Linked DNA regions of Homo sapiens: region 1 is linked to region 2. The links come from fine-mapping of genetic effects on gene expression. A gene starts in region 2. The other region holds a variant in brackets. All regions are shown on one strand. Distances are from middle to middle. Region 1 has its middle 140 kb from the start of C14orf180. Region 2 holds the start of AHNAK2 (AHNAK nucleoprotein 2).

What was found.
Region 1: its variant is fine-mapped to the expression of AHNAK2 in sigmoid colon (GTEx, PIP 0.96).

Annotation. Positions count from the first base shown.
Region 1 is chr14:104,431,216-104,442,798 of GRCh38, forward strand. No RefSeq gene overlaps it. Among named protein-coding and RNA genes, the nearest start is that of C14orf180, 140 kb to the right of the region's middle. RefSeq lists enhancers at 815-1,588, 3,773-4,638, 9,814-10,596. The variant C/G (reference allele first, on the strand shown) is at 6,846.
Region 2 is chr14:104,972,748-104,984,330 of GRCh38, forward strand. AHNAK2 (AHNAK nucleoprotein 2) reads right to left here and starts at 5,627. Exons shown (of 7, transcript NM_138420.4): 1 at 5,436-5,627. The coding sequence starts at 5,490. RefSeq lists an enhancer at 3,005-3,084 and silencers at 3,285-3,504, 5,611-5,770.

The DNA of each region.
Region 1 (11,583 bases), 540 kb before region 2:
TCATCCGTCCCACTGCGGGCGCAGCACCATATCCATTCATCCGTCCCACTGCGGGCGCAGCACCATATCTGTTCATTCATCTCACTGCGGAGGCAGCACCATATCCATTCACTAATTCCACTGCGGTGGCAGCACCCTATCCATTCATCGTCCCACTGCGGGCTCATCTGGGTCTTCGTGGAGCCACGGTCCTGCTTCAGTAGATCCAATTTTCCAAAGCTGCTCTGTGGATTTTCAGCCCCTCCCACCGTGTGTGGGGGCCACTGCCTTCTCTGTCCTAAAGCGGCCCTGCCATCGCCGCTCTGGAGAGCAGGATCCAGAAGCTCAGTGGGCTGAGCGCATCCGTAGGTGCCCCACCTCCACCCCAGGATGGGCCCAGTACCCACCTCAGGCTGCGTCTGCTGCAAGTGGACCAGCCAGCTCCAGGTGGAGAGAAGTCCCAAGGACCCCACAGCAGAGGTGCCTAGGGTGAGGGACATGGGGGGTGCCCCGTGCCAGCTTCTGCCTGGGCCAAGGGAAGGGGCAGTGGCAGAGCTCTGACAGCCTCAGGAGTTTGAGATGGGTCCTCCTGCAGCTCCAGAAGCAGGAGGGCTTGGGCAGGGGTGGGGCTGCCTGCCGGGCTGAAGCTCCTGAGGTGGCGGTGGAAGAGCACACTTCACCCTCACAAGTGTCTTGCAGAAATTTCCAGAGACAGTGTCCTGGAACGGTCACCCAGCTCTGCCTGCCCCATGGTGGTGGGATCTGCCTGCCCAACCTTGGCTCATAGCGACATTGGAGGGGCCGGGACAGCCAGACCTCACCTCCTCGAGGAGCTTCCTCCTCCAAGGAGGGGCTCAGGTGAGCATCCGGTCCCCAGAAGGGCCCTGGCCTTCCAGTTTGCACACTAAACTCTCCCTGCTGTCTGTGGGAGGAGCCGGCTCCTGTGGGAGGAGCACAGGCTCCTCTCCCTGCTGTCTGTGGGAGGAGCCGGCACAGCTCTGGAGCTGCCCCCACAGGGCACAGCCTTGACCTGGGCTCAGGGAGGGCCAGGGGTCCCTTCTGGCCACCCCATGTCTCCAGAGGGCCTTGTAGCCCATCCTGGGGTAGGGGCTCAGTCTGGGCATGGTCCTTGCACGCTCCAGTGATGTGGAGGGTGGTCCCTGGGGCAGGCCCCAGCTTGAGGTTGGGCCAGAGTGGGGTGAGGCCTGAGGAAGGGTCTGGGCCACACCAAGCCCGAAAGGAGCGAAGAGAAATGGGTCCCCATGCCACCGAGAGCAACCACTTGCCTGGCCCTCTGCATCTGGCCAGGCTGGCTGGGCCTCCCCATACCTACGGTCCCCATTTTACCTGCACTCTGTGGCAGGGCTGGTGGAGACCAGGGCCTGCCTGGGACCCACAGCAGCCAGCCCACCAGGGCTCTGGCCAGGGTCACCACCCTGGGTTCCACCAGGGTCTGGGACCAGGGACCAGAGAGACCCAGAGCTGGGGACACAACCAAGGAGCCTCGGAGTCTATGAAGCACCAAGGGTCAGCCCTGGGGACATCCTTGGAGATGCCCAACCGGCTCCTGGCCCAGCAGTGGGGAGGCCGATCCTGAAGGGGCCGGAGCCCGTGGAACACACGGACGCAAACAACGCTGCACAGACCCCTTTCCCAGCCTAGGATGTGGCCGCCGGGAGGGTATCTCTGAGGCTGGTGCTCAAGCACCACCCACACCTCCTCATCCCCCTCACCTCACCTCCCCTAATCTGCAAGCTGCGGCCCGAGGCGCACCTGGCTGTCCCAGCCCTCCCAGCAGCACCTGGCGGCTCCCTGAGCTTGTCCACAGCAGCAGTCGTCTTCAGGGTGGCTCTGCACTGGCAGGCCCCGGGTGCCCTTCCCACGGGGGTGGCAGGGAGCCGGCTACTCCAGACGGGCCCCGCACTGTGGACAGGCGCTGATGCTTCGGTTTCCGTGGTTGCCCCGGCCCCGTTGTTTGAGGGCCCCGAGCCTGGCCCACCTGCCCACACCCGTGAGGAGGCCTTCAGGAAGGTGGGGCACAGCAGCGGTGCCCAGTTTGGAGCAAAGCCTGGACTTGGAGCTTGCAGAAGGAGCTCTTAGCCCACACAGAAGGAATCACAACTGGGACCAGAAGCACCTCCTCCATCTTGTGGAGTTGCTGAGGACAGATGGTCAGAAACTGAGTTTGCTGTGGTGGCAAAGTGTCCCTGCCACCCCGGCCCCTCTAGAGAGGGCAGCGCCCGCCCCCTCCAATCACGGCATCCACAGGGCTCCTGGAGCCCCTCCAGCCAGTCGGGCCAGCCATGGGGGCACCCTGTGCCTGCTCCGCTCCGAGGTGACCTCCACCCACAGCTGCTCTGAGGAGCACGGCCGGGGTTCCCCGAGACTTCCCTGGTCCACTTTAGAGCCACGGGGCTAACGGGTTTTGTTTTCAGTGGTATCTCTTCCTCGGTGATGTCCTGTGGGCCAGGTCTCAGCCCAACCCCTCCTTCACAAGCTGGTAGCCACCCTGGAGCCCGCCAGTCCCCAGCTCCCGGATGCTCACGGTGGGCTAGGCACGGTCACCACACCCTGGGCTGCCTGTCACAGAAGTGGCCCCAGCCTTTGAGGATCACGGAGAGACCAGGGTGACAGTCTCTGTCAAGAGCACCTGTGGCACCTGAGGTGGCCCCTGCTACCTCCCTGGAGGGTGAGCTTCAGGCAAGGCCTGAGGGTGTCTAGAGGGACCCTGTGCAGGGCCACCCCGCCTGAGCTCAGGCCCCGTCCTTCCTGCCCTCCAGAGGGGGAACCAGCCACAGAGCCTCGGCCTAGGGCTCACGTGGGCCCGCGCCTGCAGTGAGTGGCTGCCCTCTGCAGACAGAGCGGGCTCAGGCGCCCCGGAGCTGGAGGGGTCTTCTCTGTAAAAGTGACCTCAGGAGGTCCGGGTCCTGCATTCTTTCTGTCCCCAGCCCAGAACCTGATTTCTGAAACAAAGTTTCCTGGGCCTCGGGGAGTGAGGTTGGGGCTACTGGGAGTTCACAGGGCTCATCCCTTCCCCTGGAGTCTACCAGCCTGAGCTTTCCTGCCCCACACTGTCCCCGAGGGGCCTGGGATGCTGACAGAAGTCTCACGGCTGCTAATGTAAGGTCAGGGCTTTAGTGCCCTGTGCCCCTGCTTGTCGCCACCCGCCACCGGCCTCCCCACACCTTTGGAGCAGGTGGGGACCAGCATGGATGGCCCTCTGGACTGGTGTGGGGGGCCCCTGCTTTGGAGGGGCTGCTGGCCAGTGGCAGGGGTTGGATTGGAGCCAGGCGGATCTCACCAACCCCCATCCTTCAACACAACAGAAAGGGGCGGGTGGGAGGTTGGAGCCCCGGCCGTGTTAGCTGCTGTGGTGCCTCCAGCCAACCCTATTCCATCCCCAGGACCACCTGCTCAGGGGTGCCCTGATCCCAGCAACCAAGGACTCCAGAAGGTAGGTATAAGTTCCATGGGCTTTGCAGGGAGGGGCTGAGCAGTCCCACACAGGCACTCATTTGGAACCAAACAGAGGGCTGGGGACTGAACAGAGGCATTCTGACCCCACAGCAATGGGGAGCCATGGCGGGTCCTTGAGCAGAAGGGTAGGCTCTGGAATGTGTTTGAAGTTGATGCTGACAGCAGGTGTGGGGTGGACTGAGGGAAGATGGAGACCAGGGGTTGCCAGGGCAATGCCCAGGAGCAACGTAAGGAGGCCCCCAGGGTGCAAGGGAGGGCCAGGGGCAGGGCAGGAGGTGGGAGTCTTGGCCAGGAACATGCTGTAGGGCTAGGAACTACCCGGAAAAGGGTGAGTCTCAGGGGCTTGGACCCCCTCCCGGAGCAGAGGACTCCAGGGTCCCCAGCTGTGTGCCCTTCACTGTGAGGCAGTGTGAGTGCTGGCCCACTCACGACATGCCCAGACCTGCAGAATGGGAAAGGCCTTCCTGGTAACGGGGCCTCCAAGAGCAGGCAGGTGGCCTGTGAGCGGCATTTCCAAACATCAGACTTCGCAGGGCTGACTTGATGGCTACCAGCAAGCAAGTCCCACCATGGTTCCTGTGGGGCAGTCGGGGTGCTCAGGGAGGTGGGCTCCAGGCAGGGGACCTGGCCCAGCCTCACTGTGACCCCCGGAGGCCCAGCAAGGGGTGACTAGTGGGCACAGTGCCTTGGAGTGGGAGGAGGAGAAACCCTAAAATGAGGCCCACGCCCCACAGCCGAGTGGCTCCCTGGAGCCAGCCCTGGCCCCGTCGTGCCCCAAGAAGGCCTGGCTGGCCAGGGCCTAGGGCTCCTGTGGGGTTGCCAGCACCACAGGGTCAGTACAGGCTGTCATCAGGCAGTCCAGCCACCCTGAGGGCAGGTGCTGGGGAAGGACCCTGTCCCACTCCCTCCATCACCTGTGCTGGGGCCACTGGCAGTCATAGGAGAGCAGAGCAGGCCCAAGGTAGGCGCCAGACATGGCGCCCTTGCAGCCAGCGTGTCCACGCCCATCCTCAAGCCGAGCCTGGTCACCAGCAGTGAGAAGGGAGGGTAGGCCCACGGCCCTGGCTCCCCTAAAGTCCTGTTTCCACGGAACGATGGCCCAGCATCTACTCCTCCCCAGGACCCCCGCTAACTGGGAAGGGTCAGCCCCTGCCCTTTGCACTCTACCCCCAAGACATGCGGCCTCCTTGACCTCTCTATGCTCAAGCAAGTCTTGCCAGAACTAGGAAAATCTGCCCCAAGCTATGATCCCAGCTGGTGCAGATGGTCCCAGGCTGTGGTGGGCCCTGTTCTATTCCTCCCAACAACCCTGCAGTCCATCCCACAAATCGGGACAATGCGCTGGGACAGCTGACATTCCAGAGGTGTCCAGGGACGCACAGTGAATCCGTGTCCACTGGGGAGCGCCCACTAGGAGGGAGGAAGCCCAGGAGAGTGGGCGCTCGCAGGAAGCCCTCTGGCCTGGCCCGGTAGTCCTGGCGGGCTTCCAGGGGGAGGTGGAGCTGAGCCTCCTGCAGATGGGCGGAGCTGAGGGAGGCAGGCCTGGGGCAGTCGGGGTGAAGGCTCCAGGACTGCCAGGGCAGGAAACCACACAGGATGTTATGGAGAAGCAGGACGGCAGCAAGGGTGTACAGCTGGGCCTGGTCACTCTGCCAAGCCCCTAGCCCGGCGGCTGCCTCCCCGCAGTGGCCTGTTTTCTCCGCGGCCATGCCAGGAGACGTGCCGGGGGCTGACCGTAAGCTTCCCCCAGGAACTGCTGACACAAGCTCCTCCCACTGCATGCCTGTGTCTGGCTGGCCAAGCTCTGTCCCAGGACTTCCCTCCCACCAGGGCCCTGTTCCCATTCCCACCACAGGACCAAGGGGCCCTACTTAGCCTCCAGCCTCCCGGGCACCCCCTGGTCCTTACTGCAGCTGCGCTGGTGTCATTCTCCGTCCTGTGGGGTGAGCTCCAGCATGGCCGTGCGTGCTCTGCTGGGCAGTGCCAGGCCCGTCTCCACTGGCCTCAGACACGGCAAGGCTGGACCCCTACCCAGGGTCAGAGCTTAGGTGTGGGAAGGAGGGCGATGGAGCAGATAATGAGTCAATCAGACCTGGAGACGCTGGGGGCTGGTGAAGCACCAGGCAAGGAGTTTGGGGCTGCCCCTGGTACAGGAGCCGTATGGTCCTCACCCCACACCCCAGGGAGTCACCCAGCCAGGGCCAGGGGAGAGGCAGGTGACTGCCGTGTGCGGACTCTGCACTGGCTACTACACTGCCTGTGGGGCTGGAATGGGGGCTCCCAGAAAGGGGCTGGACTCCAGCCCCTGGAGGACAGGGTGTTAGGCAGCCAGCAGTGGGTGAACCCAAGGGCCAGGCCAGCACAGCACGGGGGCAGGGTGAGGGTCCCAGGTTGTGGCTCAGCCTGACGGGCCTTGCTGTGTAAGCTGCTCTCAGAGAGGGAGGTGGCTGGTCTCTTTCTTCCCTTGTGGAGATGCAGCCAGACAGGGGCCAGAGGCCCAATGAATTAATTATGGAGGGAAGGCAGCCCTGCTCTGAGCAGCGGGGCTCTGGATGAGGCGGTGGCTCCAGCTGCTGCAGGGCCCTGAAAGCACACTGCCCACCTCTGCCGGCCCCACCCAGCTGCAGGAGGCCCAGCCCCACCTGCCCTGGAAGCCTTCCAGGACTGTCAGGCAGGGGGATCTCCTGTAAGCGCCCACTCTCCTGGGCCTCTCCCCTCTGACAGGGCACTCCTGGGGCAGGTATCGCAGAGGGGGAGTTCCTGGGCCCTGGCCAGCTGCTCAGTGGGCAGCTGTGGGCCCTTCACTGGCTTCAGGTTCCTCTGAGCTGGTGCCCTCCCGCCTGCCTGTGGGTGGTGACACTGGGCTGGGACACATGAGTCCTCCCCACACTGGCCCCAGGGCACAATCAATACCCAGTGAGCCTTTCATTACCTGGCTGTTAATTATTCAGCGCTCACTGGGAAGGCCACATGCCACATCCGTGCCCTCACCCCGCCCCACCCCATGGGAACACAACAGAAAGTGCCTGGGAGTGGGCAGGGAGGAGACGCTAAGCACACAGTGAGGAGACCACCCCTGGAAGCCCCCAGACCACAGCAGAGAGAAAGAGAGAGACAGAAAGAAGTCTTCCCTGGTGGGTGAGAGCCCAGGCTGTTCTTCCAAGGGCAGGAGGGAGGGAGGCAGGGAAGGAGGAAGGAAGGGGGGCCTGACCACCCAGGCCAGCCCCGGGGGCCAGCTCCACTGGCATCACAGCACTTAATTTGCACACAGCGCAGGAGGTGAGGCCTGCCTGTCTGCTCCCTCCAGGCCCAAGGTCACAGTGAAGGGACGCAGGGGATCCAGGGCAGTTGGATGCCCCGCAGGTGGGGGATGAAGACTTGGCCAAGCC[C/G]CCTCAAGCGCCAAGCTCTTTTACTAGGCAGTGTCTAAAAGCCCCTTGTGAGTGTCCCACCAGCCACATCCATTCTGTATCCTCTAAGAAAGCAAAGCAAAGGAAAGAAAGAGGGGAGGGGAGGGCAGGGGCAGGTCCTGAGGGCTGCAGGCCCCCGGGTCCCAGGTGAGTTTGTGGGTCAGCTCTCAGAGGTGTGAACACAGCCTTGGTGGGGCACCCAGATGCAGACTCTGGCCTCAGACCAGCCCCCACCTTGTTTGCGTCCCCCAAGTCAAGTAGCCGTCCCCCTGGCATGGGCCATCCCATGGCAAAGGGGTTGCAGGGAGGAGGTGTCCCTGTGGCCTGTGTCGGGGGTACACGCCAGCACAGAGGCTGAGCAGCCCAAGCCACCAGCTCCAGATGCTACAGGTGGAGTTTGGATGTCGAAGCCCGAATCCCCAGTACACAGAACGTGATCTTATTTAGAAATAGGGTCACTGCAGATGTGATTAGAAAAATGAGGCCACCCTGCAGCAGGGCAGGCCCCTCATCGGACATGACAGTTGTCCTTATAAAAAGAAGGAATTTGGATACAAACACGTGCACAGGGCAAACACCGAGGGGGTGAGAGCAAGGGTCGGGGTGATGTTTCCACAAGCCGTGGACCCCAGAGACGGCCAGCAACCTCCAGAAACGAGGCAAGAGCTGTGGAACAAGTTCTCCCTCACAGCCCCGGAAGGACCCAGCCCTGTCAATGCCTGGATCCTGGACTTTCTGCCTTCAAAACATTGCGGGAAAAAATCTCTGTTGTTTAAGCCACCCACGATCTGGTACAGGCAAATCTCAGAGATATTGTGGGTTCCATTCCAGACCACTGCAATAAAGTGAGTTTTACAATACGGTGAGTCACATGAATTTTTTGGTTTCCCGGTACATATAAAAGTGACATTTTCACTGTACTGTAGTCTATTCAGTGTGCAATAGCATCGTCTAAAAAACAATGTACTTACCTTAATTAAAATACACTTCATTGCCAAACAATGCTAACGACCATCTGTGCCTTCAGTGAATCATCTTTTGCTGGTGAGGGTCTTGCCTCCATGTTGATGGCTGCTGTCTGATGGAGGTGGTGGGTGCTGAAGGCTGGGGTGGCTGTGGCAATTTCTTAGGACAACAGTGAAGCTGGCCTCATCAATAGACTTTTCCTTTCCTGAAAGATTTTGCTGTAGCGTGCGATTCTGTTGACAGCATTTTATCCACAGTAGTTCTTCTTTCAGCAGTGGAGTCAATTTTCCCAATCCTTGCCACTGCTCCATCAACTAAGTTTTGATGGAATATTCTAAATCCTTTGTTGTCATTTCAACAGTGTTCACTTTCTTTTCTCATCCGTAAAAAGCAACTCTTCATCCATTCGAGTTTCTTCATGAGACTGCAGCAATTCAGTCACATCCTCAGGCTCCACTTCTAATTCTAGTTCTCTTGCTATTTCCACCACATGTGCAGTTCCTGCTTCCCTGAAGTCTTGAACCCTCAAAGTCATCCATGCGAGTTGGAATCCATTTCTTCTAAATTCCTGTCAATGTTGATATCTCAACCTCCTCCCATTCTTCACGGCTTCTAGAATGGAGAATCCTTTCTGAAGATTTTCCATTGACTTTGCCTAGATCCATCAGAGAAATCACTGTCTATGGCAGTTACAGCCTTACAACATGTATTTCTTAAATAGTAAGACTTGAAAGTTGAAATGACTCCCTGATGCGTGGGCGGCCTGATGGATGTCGTGTGAGCAGCCATGAAAACAACGTTCGTCTCCTGCGAGTCTCCAGCAGAGCTCTTGGGTGACCAGGTCATGTCAATGAGCAGTCATATTTTGAAAGGAACCTTTTTTTTTTCTGAGCAGTAGGTATCAACGGTGAGCTTAAAATATTCAGCCAATCGTGCTGTAAACAGATGTGCTGTCATCCAGGCTTTGTTGTTCCATTTTCAGAACACAGACAGTCGACTTTGCGTAATTCTTAAGGGCCCTAGGATTTCAGGAATGGTAAATCAGCACTGGCTTCAACTTAAAGTCACCAGCTGCCTTCACTCCTAACAAGAGAGGCAGCCTGTCCTTTGAAGCTTTGAGGCCAGGCATCGACTTCTCCTCTCTAGCTATGAAAGTCCTAGATGGCATCTTCTTCCAATGGAAGGCTGTGTCTTCCACGTTGAAAATCTGTTGTTTAGTGTAGCCACCTTCGTCGATGATCCAAGCTGGATCTTCTGGATAACTCGCTGCAGCTTCTCCGTCAGCACTTGCCGCTTCACCCTGCACTTTCATGTTCTGGGGACACACATTAAGCCTCACGAACCGACCTCTGCCAGCTTCCAGCTTTTCTTCTGCAGCTTCCTCATCCCTGTCAGCCTTCACAGAACTGAGAATCAGGGCCTCGCTGGGGGTGAGGCTTTGGCTTAAGGGGAGTGTGATGGCTGCTTGGATCTATCCAGACCACTCGAGCTGTCTCCACATCAGCATTTTTAAAATTTTTAAAATTTCCTTATAGAACTTTTCCTTGGCATTCACAACTTGGCCAACCGGCACCAGATGCCCAGCTCCCAGCTTTCGGCCTGCATGGGGTCTCCACCTGCCTTCCTCACAGAGGTGAATCACTTCTAGCTTTTGATTTAAAGTGAGAGATGTGGCATGGTTCATGGTTTCCCCAGTTACACTAGTAACATCGAAGATCACTGACCACAGATCACCATAACATACAGTAATGATGCAAAAGCGTGCGATGTTGTGAGAATTACCAAAGTGTGACACAGAGATGTGACATGAGCAACGTGCTGTTAGAACAACAGCTCTGATTGACTTGTTCAACACAGGGCTGCCACAAACCCTCAATTTGTTAAAAAAAAAGTACAGTATCTGCAACGTGCAATAAAGTGAAGAGGAATAAAACAAGGTGTGCCTACACCTGGGTACGGCAGCCTAGGACACTAATGCCACAGACGTGGGAACTGAATGGTGGGGTTTCGAGTAGTGTTTTCTGGGATTTGTACCACCAACCCATCCCTTTCTGATTATACAAGGCTTCAGTGACAGATGGGGAAACTGAGGCATTGAGATTGGAAGAGATTCACCCACAACACCCACAAATCCATGGTGGGGCTGAGCCAGAGTCCCTAGCTCCCCTACCCCTGCCCATTCCCTATTCCGGGCCCTGTCCTTCCTTCCAGCTGCAACACAAAGGTGGTGTCCACCTTATTGATGGAGGGGCTGAGTCCCAGAGTCACCTGGTGCCTGCACAGAGGGAGACGGAGCTGGACCCCTGCCGGGGGTGGAGGCCCTGGACAACGGGCACAAGTGAGGCTCCAGACAGCATGGGAGACAGCCCAGTGGATGGTGGGTCAGGGAGGCTTCCTGGGGGAGGGTGCTCCAAGGGGCTGGAGGATGGACATGGTTTAGCAAACCTCGCTGGGGCAGAGACAGGAAGGACACGGGTGAGTTGGGAGCTGAGCAGGCAGGCACTGGGCATGGGGCAGCAGCTGGAGACGGAGGGCTCAGGGCTCACTGGCACCAGGATGCCTCAGCTGGAGAGGAACAGCCAGCAGGATGGTAGGCCAGGAGGACAGCAGGACAGCAGTGGCCACACCACGTGGCCCACCGTCTGCTGGATGCCTGGGTGGTACACAGGCTTCCACTCCGCGGTGAATGCCCAAGGCCCTTTTATTCATGTTCGTAATTACAGAATGCAGGGCGCATTATCCACAATTTGCTTCACATGAAAAAGCAGGACCATTTGCTGAAGCCCTTCCCCGTGAAGCTCAGCACGCTGCTATCAATGAACCCGGAATCCTCTCCCGGCTGGCAAATGGAATCTTTTCTGCTCCTGACAAAGAGGAATGTCCTCAAGGTGAATCTTTTCATTCCTGCTCCTTTCAGCCAGCAATTTTGGTGGCTGACAGATTCTTCTGTGAGAAATGGCGATTTGATAAAATGCAAAGTGGATGCTATCGAGCTCACGGGCTTTTCAGAGGAGTTGGGAGCCATGGCCCTGGGCTCCTTTCCGCCCTCCATCCGCCTCCTCTTGCTCCTCCAAGCCCAGCCTGTGCATCCTGGAAAGCCAGGAGCAGGACTCCAGCCCCAGCCGCCACAGCAGGCAGCAGCTGACCACTTCGAAGCTACCCGCCCCGACCCCACGAGGCCACACAGCCTCCCTCACCGGCTGGGCCTGGCTGAGACCCCGGACTTGGAGCAGGAGCAGACCTCAGCCAGTGCCCAGGAACTGCTAGGTGAGGCCTGCACTGGGCAGCAACACCCCCTCACGAGGCACAGGAGCAGGACCTGGGCCTGGGCAGGGCTGGGGGGCAGACACCTCTGTCCACAGCACATACGGCTTCTCCCGGCCACCCCGGGGTCCGTCGGAGAACCTGGGATCACGCAGGGCCCAGAACACGGCCAGCCAAGCCTCCTCCGAGCCCTCCTGGGAGTGCCCCCACCCTTACACCGGGCACGAGGCGACCAGAGTTTCAGGCCAGGGCTATGGAATGCTGTGGAGTCAGGCGAGTCTTGGGAGCAGGGATGAACACAAGCCTTCCAACCATGTGGCTTTGGGCAAGTGATCTCTCAGAACTTCTGTTTTCTCCTCCATAAAACTTGCATGGGTTTATCTGCCGCTCCCAGCCAACCACATGGCCAGCTCTGTGCTCCAGAAGCATCTGAAAACAGCAGTGGGATGAGGGAATGAAAGAGCAAATGAGTGAATGACGGGGAGCAGCC
Region 2 (11,583 bases):
AGCACGTGCCACTGGCTCTGCCTGGGGCACCCTCCCAGCTCAGATCCTGGACTTGCTCCCCCGCCAGGCACTCAGAACCGAGCCCTCGGCTCCAGAGCCCCTGGCGGTGGGTGCCCACAGCACGGTGCAGACACACAGCAAGGGATGGGGTCAGGCTGGAGGCCCTGGGCTCTGGCTCAGGGGGCCACTTACTGGGAAGGGTAAGAGCTGGAGAGCCATGCTTCACACCTGCCCCTGTTGCTACCCAGTCCCAAGAGAGGCACACTTGACCACCAGCAGGCGGGTGCTGGGCAGGGCCTTGCTCACCTGCCTCAGTTCCCGGGGGCCCCACCTACCGGACCCCTGGCACCACGTGGTGGGACTCAGTGGTCAGGCAGGTGTCTGATCAGCTGGAGGGACGGCAAGCAGGGGCTCTGCTAAGCCACCACATCACAGACCCTGAGACCTAGGCCATCCGGCATGTCCCGTGATGCGCACTGAACAGCTAGTCCTGGCTCAGAGCTGCTAGGACCCAGGACCAGCTAGGAGTCGCCATGGGAACTCGGCTGCTGGCGGGGGCCAGGGAGGGCTGAGGGCAGCGGATGGTGAATCAGCCGGGAGGAGGCCAAGGCGTGAAGCTCGGCATTCTCAGGGCGTGTGTCACCAAGGAGCCCGCGGTGCTGGCTCACCCAGGAGCCAGGCCTGCCAAGCAGCAGGAGCAGGGCGAGGACCGAAGGCTGTGGCCCTAAACAAAGGGGCCTTAATTCCACCTGGTGGGGGTGAGTCATGGGGCCTCCTGCCCACCCAGGCGCCATCACCTGACAGCCCCTCCAGCCGGCAGGGCTCACACGGACATAGCCCAGTAAGGGTCCCCCAAGTGTCCTGCCCCTGCCACATCCCGGGTACCCCCAGCTGCCCCTGCTTGGCTATACCCTCAGCAGCGTCCAGGCAGGGGTGTGGCTTGAGATCCCTTTCCGGACTCCTGCCTGGAACAGCCTGGGCAATTGCCTAGCCTCCCACCACCGCCACCCCTGCAGGAAGGAGTCCCTCCCAAGAGCTCTGCAGAGAGGAGGCCCCGATGCCACTCCCACCCTCACAAGCACACATTGGGTCAGCAGGTCCGAGTGCGCAGCAGAGCTGGCAGGGCAGGGACCCGCAGCCGGAGGGGAGGGGAGGGCGGTGGCTGCAAAAACCTCTGCCTGGCCTCTGTGGGGTGCGGGGATGGGGGAGTACCGCCTCCCGCCCCAGCCCCTCCCCATCCCCTGCCTCCTGGGCTCAGCTCCATGTTTCCATTTTAGAAAGTGCTTCTGACTATTAAATATTTATCCGAGCAAGGAAGGCCTTGACTCCCGGCCAGCCGATGACTTCCAAAAAAAGAAAAATAAAGGGAAATCTGGAGGCCCAGGCTGAGTGCAGGTGGGGCCTGGTGGAGACACCCTCAAGCTCGCAGCGTGGCTGGGGATCCCGTCACCCTTAGAGCGGGTGGAGGGGAGCAGAGGAGCATGCCCCGTCCTCCTTGTGTGTCCAGTTAAGCCTCCGCTAAGCTCCCTTAGCTAACCTGGCCTCCACATCCCCCACGGAGCAGCTTCCTTCCCACCAAAACTGCCCTAAGACCTATGGGGCTCCCCGGTGCCCTCAGGACAAAGCCCTCCCTCCAGCAGCTGACGCTGCCACCTCTCCATCCTCACCCCACCCCGTCCCAGATGCACTGGGTTGAACAACTTGCAGGTCCCTGACTTCGCCCTCAGCCTCTGCAGGCTCCTGCTGCTTTGCCTCCGCTTCTTTTTCATGACCAGTCCCGGTCTCCATTGGGCCAGTTGTCCTCCAGGGAGCCCTCTCTGGCCCTTCTGTGCCCCCTAAGGCTGCACTGGCCACAAAAATGGGATTCACATTTGTTGACTGAACAATGGGTGGATCCTTCCTCTGCTGAGCTATGACCTCCCAGGTCCCAGGGTTCCCGGGGTGGCTTTGAGACCCAGAAGGATGGGTGAACAGGCCGCCAGACAGACGGGGAAGCACCCCCACAACTCACACCATCCCTGAGCGCAGGGTCCGTCTCTGCCAGCCGGAAGACCAAGCTGGGAGAGTGTGGCATTTTACTCCTGAAGTGGGTGGCAGGGACCCCCAGATGGCCAGTGCCCCCCACTTGCTGGGGCTTGGGGGCCTTTCCTCCCCAGCACCTATACTTCTCCACACCTGGCCAAGCCAGCCCCTAGCTGAGCCTGAAACACAGAGGCCTTCCGCATAGGTGTCACAAGAGGAAGGACACAGAGCGGGCCAGAGTCTAAGGGAGAGCTGGGAGTGGGCCCAGCAACCCAGGGGACTTCCCAGAAGAGGCAGCTCCTAGCCCAGCCCAGGACAGAAGAGCTTGGCCAAATGGAGAGAAGGCAATGAGGGCATTCCTGTTGTAGGCCCAGCCACGACGAGCCCGGATGGGAGTGGGCACTCAGCTTCCTGGGCATGGAGAAGGCCGGGAGGGAGCGGGCTCCTGGGGCATTGGAACTGGAGGCTCTGCGGGCTTGACCCTCCTGTCCACTTCTGAGCCTCACCCCCTTCCCTGAGCTGCACCAGGTGGGCACTGCCTGAGGCTTGGGGCAGGAGCCAGAGGCCAGCAGGCAGCCCAGCCTCCCTCCCTGGTGGTCCAGCTTCTGTTTCCCCACCAGGGAAAGAGCTGGGGTTGTTAGGAACACACTTACAGCATCACTGTCGGTGGCTTCTGAGAGGCCACCTCACTGGAGGGCACTCCAGGATGCCCTCTGCTGCCTCCTCCTCAAGGCCCATTCCTGCCACTAGCGGCTACAGAGGGGCTCCTTTGCCTGCGGTCACCCTGCCTGGTGGGGCAGGGCAGAGCCAGCACCTGTCAGAACAGCATGTCACCGACCAAAGCGTGCGACATTCTGCTCTGGCCCCTAAGAGCCCAGGGAGTCACTGCGTCACTGTCCCCAGCCTCAGTGTCCTTGTCTGCAGAATGGGAATACAGCCCTCCCCCAGTGTAGATGACCCAGTCAGGGAGACACCAGGGTGGTGACAGACCCGCCCGCGCTGTCACTCGGCATCCCTGGCTGCGTGGAGCTAGCAGCACAGGCAGCTGCAATCACTCCTGACCCCGAATGTGAGGTCCTGACCCACATTTGCAGCCTGAGGCCCTGAAGAGGGCACCAGCGAGGCACAGAACAGCGAGACCACCTCCACAGCTGCCTTGCTTTGCACCCTTCTTGGGAAAGGGCCCAGCCATCTCATGACCCCCACCGCAGAGAAGAGACCACCCACACATCTTCGCATGGTATCACCACCTGGGGCCTTCCCAACACGGTGGTGCTTTCTTGGGGGGTCGTGGGAGGTGCTCAGGCCACACCGGGGCAGCAGGTGCAGGGTGGGGGCCGGGGCCGGGGAGGGGTTCCCTGTCTCCCCAGTTATCAGGGGCCCAGCTCTGCCCCTGGGAAAGAGGCAACCTGCCCCTGGAGTAGGCAAGAGTGTGACACCCAGAGCCCACTGGGAGTGAACTGGCTGGTGTTACAGTCGGCAGCGCTGCGTGGGGTGGTCCCAGCATGGCCACCAGGGGGCAGCCTCGGCACAAAAGCCGCCCAGGAGATGGCTCCCTGCTGGGCTGGTGCCTGGTGTGTCGGGCAGAGGGCAGGTTTGGACTGGACAGGAAGACGAGAGCAGGGGAGAGTCCGCCCATCTCCAGCCTGCTGAGAGGAAACTGCAGGTGGAAAAGGCCTGGACCAAATCCAGGCTGGGAAAGGCAGTAGTTGGCAGGGTGCTTGTCAGGAATGCACGTTCCTGGGCCGCAGGGTTGGGGAGGGTCTGGGAACCGGTGTGCTGGACAGAACTCCCAAGGTCTCTGATCTTGCAAGTCTCCTACCAAAGCTCCAGCGAGAGCCACTGACCTTATTCCCTAAGAGCGGATGGTTCCGTAGGCTGGACACAGGGAGGGACTGCCCCAGACGGGCTGGGAACCATGAAGCCAGCACAAGCCTCTGTGGAGGCAGGGGGTGGATGAGATGGTCCTGGACCCTGCAGCTTGGGAGTCTCTGGGTGCCCGTGAGTGAGGAGGAAGCAGAGCAGAAAGGCTGTGCAGGGAAGCTGGGGGCAGGGTAGTGGTCCCATGCCTGGGGGCCCTGCCCTTCTCCCTCTGAGGAGGTCGACCTGCAGCCATGTGGGCAGGGCCAGTCATAGTGAAAGAGGAGGGGGCCAGGGGCCTCCAGCCCACCGGAGCCATCATCCTCCCGCTGCTGTGCCCAAACACCTTGGGCTCCCATCTGCGACACCGTGAAGCAGGTGCTGTAGGGGCCTCCCTGCTCTGGAGCCCCCCAGACAAGCCTCCCACCCTAAGTGCGCACCAGACAGACAGGCCACAGGAGGGGCCTTGGTAGTGCCTGCTGCAGCTGGGGGGCATGCCCAGGCCAGGGGCACCCCTCTCACCTGCAGCATTGTCGGCACCATTAGCATTGACCTGTTTTCCCCAAGGAGTGGGGTCCAGCCTGCACCAGTGCCGGCCAGCCCAACCCCCTGGCCAGTGGCTGCCAATGCCCTGGGTGTGGTCAGCTGCAGCAGCATAGACCCAGCGCCCAAGGGACTGCCCTGCCCCCCTCAGCCCTGCCCTCCAAGATGCTGAGACACCCAGGCCCCGGAACCAGGCCCAGTGCAGGGACAGACACACAAAGAGCAGCAGGTACACATGCCGTAGCCTGCGGCTCAGAGGGAGGCTACTGACCATCCCTGGGGGCATGCCAGTAGGTAGCACCCACTTTCCCTTGCCCAGCACTGCGGGACCCTGTGGCCTGACTTTGACCCCATTCAGGCCCCTCACCAGGCCCCAGACCTCAGGCCTAGCCCTGCCACAGCCTCCACCTAGCCAGCGACCCCACCACACAGCCACACAGTAGACGCAGCCCAGCCCTGCCTGGAAGCCCCGGACCAAAGTGGAGAGCCCAGACTCCTGGACCAGCCTGGCTGCTCTCCCGCAAAGCAGGTGAGAGGGCAAGCCTGGTGCAGGTGCCCCGGGTCCCGGCGGCCCCGGCTTTCACGCCCCTTGCAGACACCAGCCCTGCTCCAGAGTGCGGTAGCACCTCCCAGGAGGCCGCCTCTCGACCAGACAGCGTCCCAGGAGCGGGGCAGGAGCGAGAAGGAGAGACAGACAGGGACCGCGAGTGACAGAGGGAGTGAGCGACAGAGACGAGTCAGCCACCGAGAAACAAAGTGAGCGACAGAGACAGTCTCAGAGGCCGGGAGAGGAGCAGGAACCTACAGCCACGGACAGGTAGAACGCGAGGCATGGGAGAAGAGACTCCAGCGGCCGGGAAGGCCCAGAACCACGCGCGAGTCCCGCAGGCGTCTCCGAGTCCCCCGCCCCCAAGGCCCGCACTGCGCGCCCCTGGACACGCCCCGGCGCGCGCCCTCGCGCGTAGCCCACCCGCCCCAGGGGAGCGGGCTGCAGGCGGGGAGGGGCGCACCGCTGCCGGGGGTTCCGGGCCAGGTGGGCAGCACCATGTGGAAGCAGTCGCACATCGCGGCGGCCAGGCGGTGCGGGCCTGGCGGCCCGTCGCGTCCAGTCGCTGGTCCCGGCTCCGGCGCACGGGGCGGGCGGGCGGGAGCCGCGCTCTGCCCCGCTGCCCTGCGCTGCCGCGGGCGGCCGACCTCGGACTGCGGACACCGCGCGCCAGGCTACCCAGCCGCTCAGCTAGGACCCCGCCCGGCTCCGCCCAGCCCTGCCGGGCCACTGCGGAGCGCGCTCGCGGGCGGTGCCGTCGGCCTCATTCAGCCCATTGGCTGCCGTCGCCGCGGCCCCGCCCCTCCCAGCCAGGCCCCGCCCCACCCCGCGCCCCCGGCCCGCCTGTCGCGTCCGCAGAATTAACTTTGGACTCCCGCCAGGGAGCGACCTCTGGATCCCCGCACCGAGGCTCCTGGACTTGCCGCTGTCTTCACCTCCCATTCCGGGGGAGACAGACACTTTAGTCAGAAGCTGGGGTGGGGGGCAGCCTGCGGGGACAACAGGGGTCGCGGGCACCGCAGGAGGTGATCTGGCAGCATAAGGACAAGATAGAATTCTGCAGGGGCTGGTGGGTGGCAGATACGAGGACGCGGCTGAGAGCGTGCAGCGGGAACAGGGCGCCCCGGGCAGGGCTGCGGGGTGGGCGCCGCGTGCGGGAGCGCCCAGCGCTGGGGGCAGTCCTGGAGCCAGAACCCCGCCCAGAGTCATCCTTTCTGCTGATTCTTGTCAAGAGCCTAGGGCCTAGGACACAGCGGCAACCAGCACCCCACTGGCCCTGCCCCAGGGGCTCCAGGTCTGGCGTAGACACAAGCAAGCCTGTAAGGATGAGGCGTTCTGCAGGGCGGCACTGCCCTGGGGGCGGGGGAACGGAGGTCCTGGAGGGCTCCTGGCAGTGTAAGCTGGGACCTTAGGGGTGAGACATGTGCCAGGCAGTGTAGGAAGCGTTCTGGAGAGAGGGGACAGAGTAGCGTGTGTGCAGAGAATGGGGGCAAAAGGGCTGGGGTTGAAAGTCAGGCCCAGTGGGCGGGGGCAGGGCAGCAAGGAGGCTGAGGGGGCTCCTGTCGGTAGGAGGTGCCACTTAAGGCTCCAAGCAGGGTCTCTGAGCGTGGTGAGAGCTGAGGAAAGACTGCGCAGGTGGCTAGGGGTGTTGGCATGGGGCACAGCTGGAAACAGGAGCAGTGGAACCACGGCCATGGTATGGGAGGGAGTGAAAGGATATGCAGGCAGAGGGGACTTGGTGAGGATCAGAGTGCAGAGGGTGGGAGCCTCCCTGGGATCTAGCTTGGGCACCACACAGAGGCAGCACACCTGGGGGTGTGGACAGGGAGGGCAGGGGCCCAAGGGAGTTCTAAGAGTTTGGTGACGCCTGGCCTGGTGTAGACCCAAACCGGGCATACCCCAGAAGGAGTGGAGTTCTGCAGGGATTGTCGGGGAAGGCAGGGCTGGAAGAGACCCAGGAGAGGACCGCCACCTCCATGAGGAGCTGCCTGGCAATGTCCAGGGGTGTGGGTCAGATGCAGGGACACACACACACACGGACACACATACGGATACACACACACATACATACATACAGAGATAAAGACACAGAGACACACAGACACACACGGACAGAGACACAGACACACAGATACACAGGTACACATACAGACACACACACAGAGGCACACACAGACACACACAGAGACACACAGACACACATGGACAGAGACACAGACACAGAGATACACAGGTACACATAGAGGCACACTCACACACACACAGACACACACACAGAGACACACAGACACATACACATAGAGACACAAACACACATGCTCTGTCATACACACACACACACACACACACACACGGACACCTTTTCCTGGGGTGGGAAGAGGCCAGGCTGTACCGGAAGGGCCAGGCAGACACACACACTCATAGATAAGATCACAAACTCACCAAGACACAGACACAGGCCACCTGAGATATTTGATACACTCAGGCCTGCATGCATGAACACCCACACCAGGATACAGACCCATGCACGTGTATACATACACACAGGGGCACACGCATTCCTGGGCTCATTTGGAGACCACGCACAGCTAGCGGGCCCAGGTGAGCCACCCGGGCACGATGACTCACCCTAGACAGTTCCCGTTAGCCGCGCTGCAGCCACCGGGCAGCCATCCAGCAGCAGGTCAGATGGACGCCAGAGCCACTGCTGGGAAGAGGCCCTGGCAGCCTCCTGCCAGTGAGCCCAGGCATGATGGGCACAACCTTCTCCCTCGTGTGGGGACCTGGCGCAGGTCTTACCCCACCCCCTCGCAGTGTCCTTTTTTCGGGGCTGAGCAGTGTTGCCTGGGGTCCAGAGGCCCTGCACTTACCTCCCTCCCCAGGAGCCCACCCTGCTCTGGTCACCTGGAGTCAGTCACTCCCTGGACACAGGGAGAGAGCCACTAGGGTGCCTGGGTGCATACACCTCTGTGTGTGTCCCTGGATGTGTCTATGCCTCTGCCTGGTCTGCTGGGGTTTCGCCCGCTAGTCCTCTGTGTCTGAGTCTGGCTGCAGGGCCTGGGAACGAGGGGCCGCTCAGGGCACTCACCCACCTTTGTGTCCTCAGCCCCTTTAGGTGTGTGCCCTTGACAAAGTCATGTGGCCTCCTGGGTCCCCATCCAAATGAAGTGGCCCCTCTCCTGATTGTCTGGCGTGATCTGCGCAGGGCTACGGGGACTCCCCTTGGCTTTGCGGGATGGGTGAGGATGGAGCCCTGGGTGGGGAAGCCGAGGTTGCCCCCGACATGTCCCTGTCCCTGGGCTACTACCTGCTGCCCCTGCCTCTGTTTTCCTTCAGCAAGATGAGAGAACCCTCCAGGCCATCTTGGTGGGGGCCGAGTGAGAGCGCAAGTTCAGCGTGGCGTCACGGGAGTGTGGGGACCCCACACTTGGGAGGACTTTGCCCTGGTCCTGCCCCTCAGCCTGGGGTGGCTGAGATCTTCCCCTAGCTGTGTCCACTGGGCCTGTCCTCCCCTGGCTAAGAAATGGTCCCAGAACCAACCACAGCTGCCCAGGTCCAGGAACTTTGCCTCTGCCCTGCACGGGGCTGCCCACTTCCAAGGTGGGCACAGACACACACACGCAGCTGCGCCATGCTCCCCTGTGGCCCCAGAATTCAGGATGGGGTCTGGGCAGGGCCTGCTCCACCCGGAGGCCGTCCCTCCCTTCTCCTGCCCACTCTGAGACAGAGGGCTGGTGTCTCTCTGCAGTGGCCTCTGGCTCTGCGCTGCCCTGAGTGCTGGGGCCACAGTCTGGTTGTGACTGTCGGGGAGCTGGGGACTGCCCCTCCCACCCTCCTTCTGGGGGTCTTCTCCTAGCTTGAGGGTTAAGCTGACAGTGTCATGAGTAAGACACCTTGGGGTGTCTGTCCAGAGAGCTTCCCCACCTCAAGGAACCTGGGGTCCTGAGAGCTCTATCTCACTCCAGATGCCTCTGGGAGGGCCTGCAACTTGGGCAGTGTACCCCCACAAACAGGCAGGCTGCGGCTATGTGCAGTTGAGGACTGGCTCCCCAGGGGCCAGCCAGAATCCCTCCTCCCGCCCACCAGGGCCTCAGCAGCTGAAACAGGGGTCCAGGGTCACAGCTGTGGGAGCAGGGGAGAAGATGAGAGGGGCTGCCAGCCCCCATCCCGGGCCCTGCCCGCCAGCTGAAGCCTGCGCTCCTGTCGTCACGCCCAGCTCCAGTTTCCTCCCCATGTGCCCCTCTGAGGACAGATGCCCAGCTAGGGAGGACCACAGAAGCATGCCTGGGCTCAGGAATTCATGCCCCCACCCACAGCATCGCTGGACACAAGCCCAACTCACAGCCGCCCCTGGCACATACAAGGCCCCACACCTGCTGTAGGTGTCACCCCAGGGAGAGGGCATCGCATGCTCTCTCCTGTGCACACAGCCTCCACCTCTTCCCTGGACCACTGAGATGGGGACACTGGCCCAGCCCACTGGTTGCCCACAGCCTTCCTGAGGCTGGGTGCCGGGGCCTGGGTGAGGAGCCGAGGCTCCCCAGGCCCTGATCATCAGCAGAGCCGCTGCCCTGCCCCCATGGCCTGACTGGCGCTGCTTGCCTCCACCCTCTGCAGGCAGGGATGCCCACAGCATCAATGATTGATTCTTGCTGCGGCAGCTGCAGCAACATAAGCAAAAATAGCTCTGCTGTGGTCCCTGCCCCGCCCCAGCCACAGCCTTGCATCCAGCCCAGCCTCGTGCCCAGATGGAGGGGTGTGAGGTGAGGTGGGAGCATCTAGGACTGTCTCAGCCACTGCCTGCCCCTCCTCAGTCTTTTATACGGAGATGATGGGGGAGGACCCCCTGACCAGGTGGGGGACACTTGTCCACCCAGCCTCCCACTCTTGCCTGACCACACTGACTCCTGACCTCTAACCGCCTCACTCTCCCCCAAAGCTGGGTGCCCGTTTCAGGCCTGGGTATTGTCCCCAGGTCCACTTCCTCTGCACCCACACAGCTGGGATCAGGAAATGTGGCAGTGGTGGGGCATGTCAGGGTGCTGCCATCGTTCCACTCGGATGGGTTTCTTCAACCCATGTCTTCATCGGGCTCTCTGGCTCAGCAGTCCGTGTGGGCTAGCCTGGGATCCGAGCAGCAGCAGGTTCCCATGCTGCCGCCTGCAAGCCCTGGCACTCCTGCTGCCAGAGGTGAGGACAGGCACACGCCCCAACTTGCCCTAGGGACTTGGGGCTGAGGATCCCAGAGGACCAGGATGCCTGGGTGCTTCTGGGGACCCCTCCCCAGCCAGTCCTTGCTCATCAGGTGATGCTGGGAGATCCCAAGATGACTGTGGGGCTCTGTGCATAGGTGGCACTTGCCCCAGAACCCAGGCTGGCCCCTTCCTCCTGAGACTAGGGTAGGGAAGCTTGGCTCCTCTGCAGAAGGGAAGGTGCTCCCCACACAGCCATTGAGCAGGGCTGGGGCTCAGGGTGGACCGAGGTGGCTGGAGAGGTCCTGGGAGGGCCACATGGGCTCCTCGTCCCGACCACACTCCACCTGCCCCCTCCATGCCCCTCGGGAGTCATGGCTAATGTCCCCCACACCCAGGCTTTAATGGGAACCCACCCTCTCCGGCCCAGTCTCCCCTAGCAGCTGGGCCAGTTCAATTTGAGCAGTGCCTGCTCCAATCGCCAACCTGGAAGCCTTATCCTCAGCTCGTGCCTTTCAGGCTGTGCCATGAAGCAGGATGGTCTGCCCAGAAGCTGGCCCAAGAAGCCAGCAGCGGCCTAGCAGCCACCTGGGCTGCCCCCACCTCCTCCTGCAACCAGGGTTGGGCACCTGATGTCAAGGTTGCCGCTGCCATTTCCTCTGCACCTTGGCTTCCCCGACGCAGCACTTCTCAGTGGGTCACAAGGGGTCACTCAGGCATATTAGTTCCCTGCTGCTGCCATAACAAAATACCCCCGACACAGTGGTTGAAAACAGCATGTGCGCATTTATCAACTCCAGTTCTAGGTGTGGGCAGGATGGTGTGCCTTCTGGAGGCTTCAGGGGAGATCTGTTTTCTGGTCCCTTCAGCCTCCAGAGGCATCTGCAGTCTCGTATCACTCCGGCTCTGCTTCCATCTTTGCGTCTCCTCTCTGACTCTGACCTTCCTGCTTCCTTCTCAGGACCTTTGTGATTACATGCCTCATCCAGGCTCCACTCCTCCTCTCAAGAGCCTTAATTTAAGCCCATCTATAAAGTGTCTTTGACCCTGTAAGGTCACATAGCCACAGGTTCCAGGGGTTAGGATGTGGACATCTCTGTGGGGCTGTTCAACTGCCACACCAGCTCTTCAACCCATATGGGTCATTTCTATCCTCCAACCACCCTGGGAGTACTGTGCTCCCCACGCTCTTCACGTGGAAGCTGAGGCCCAGACGGGGGTGGGGAATTGCAGAGAACGAGGAGAGCAGCTCCTGTCCCAGCTCTGCTTCTCACGCAGGCCTTTGGGGTGGGGCCTCAGTTTCCCCACCTGTACACAAGGACAACACTCCTCCTGCCCCCCTCCCAGCTCCCTGGGCCTCAAGGACGGCAAGGACGTGCAGTGGATGAGGGGCAGCAGTGGGAACGGACACTGCCCTTA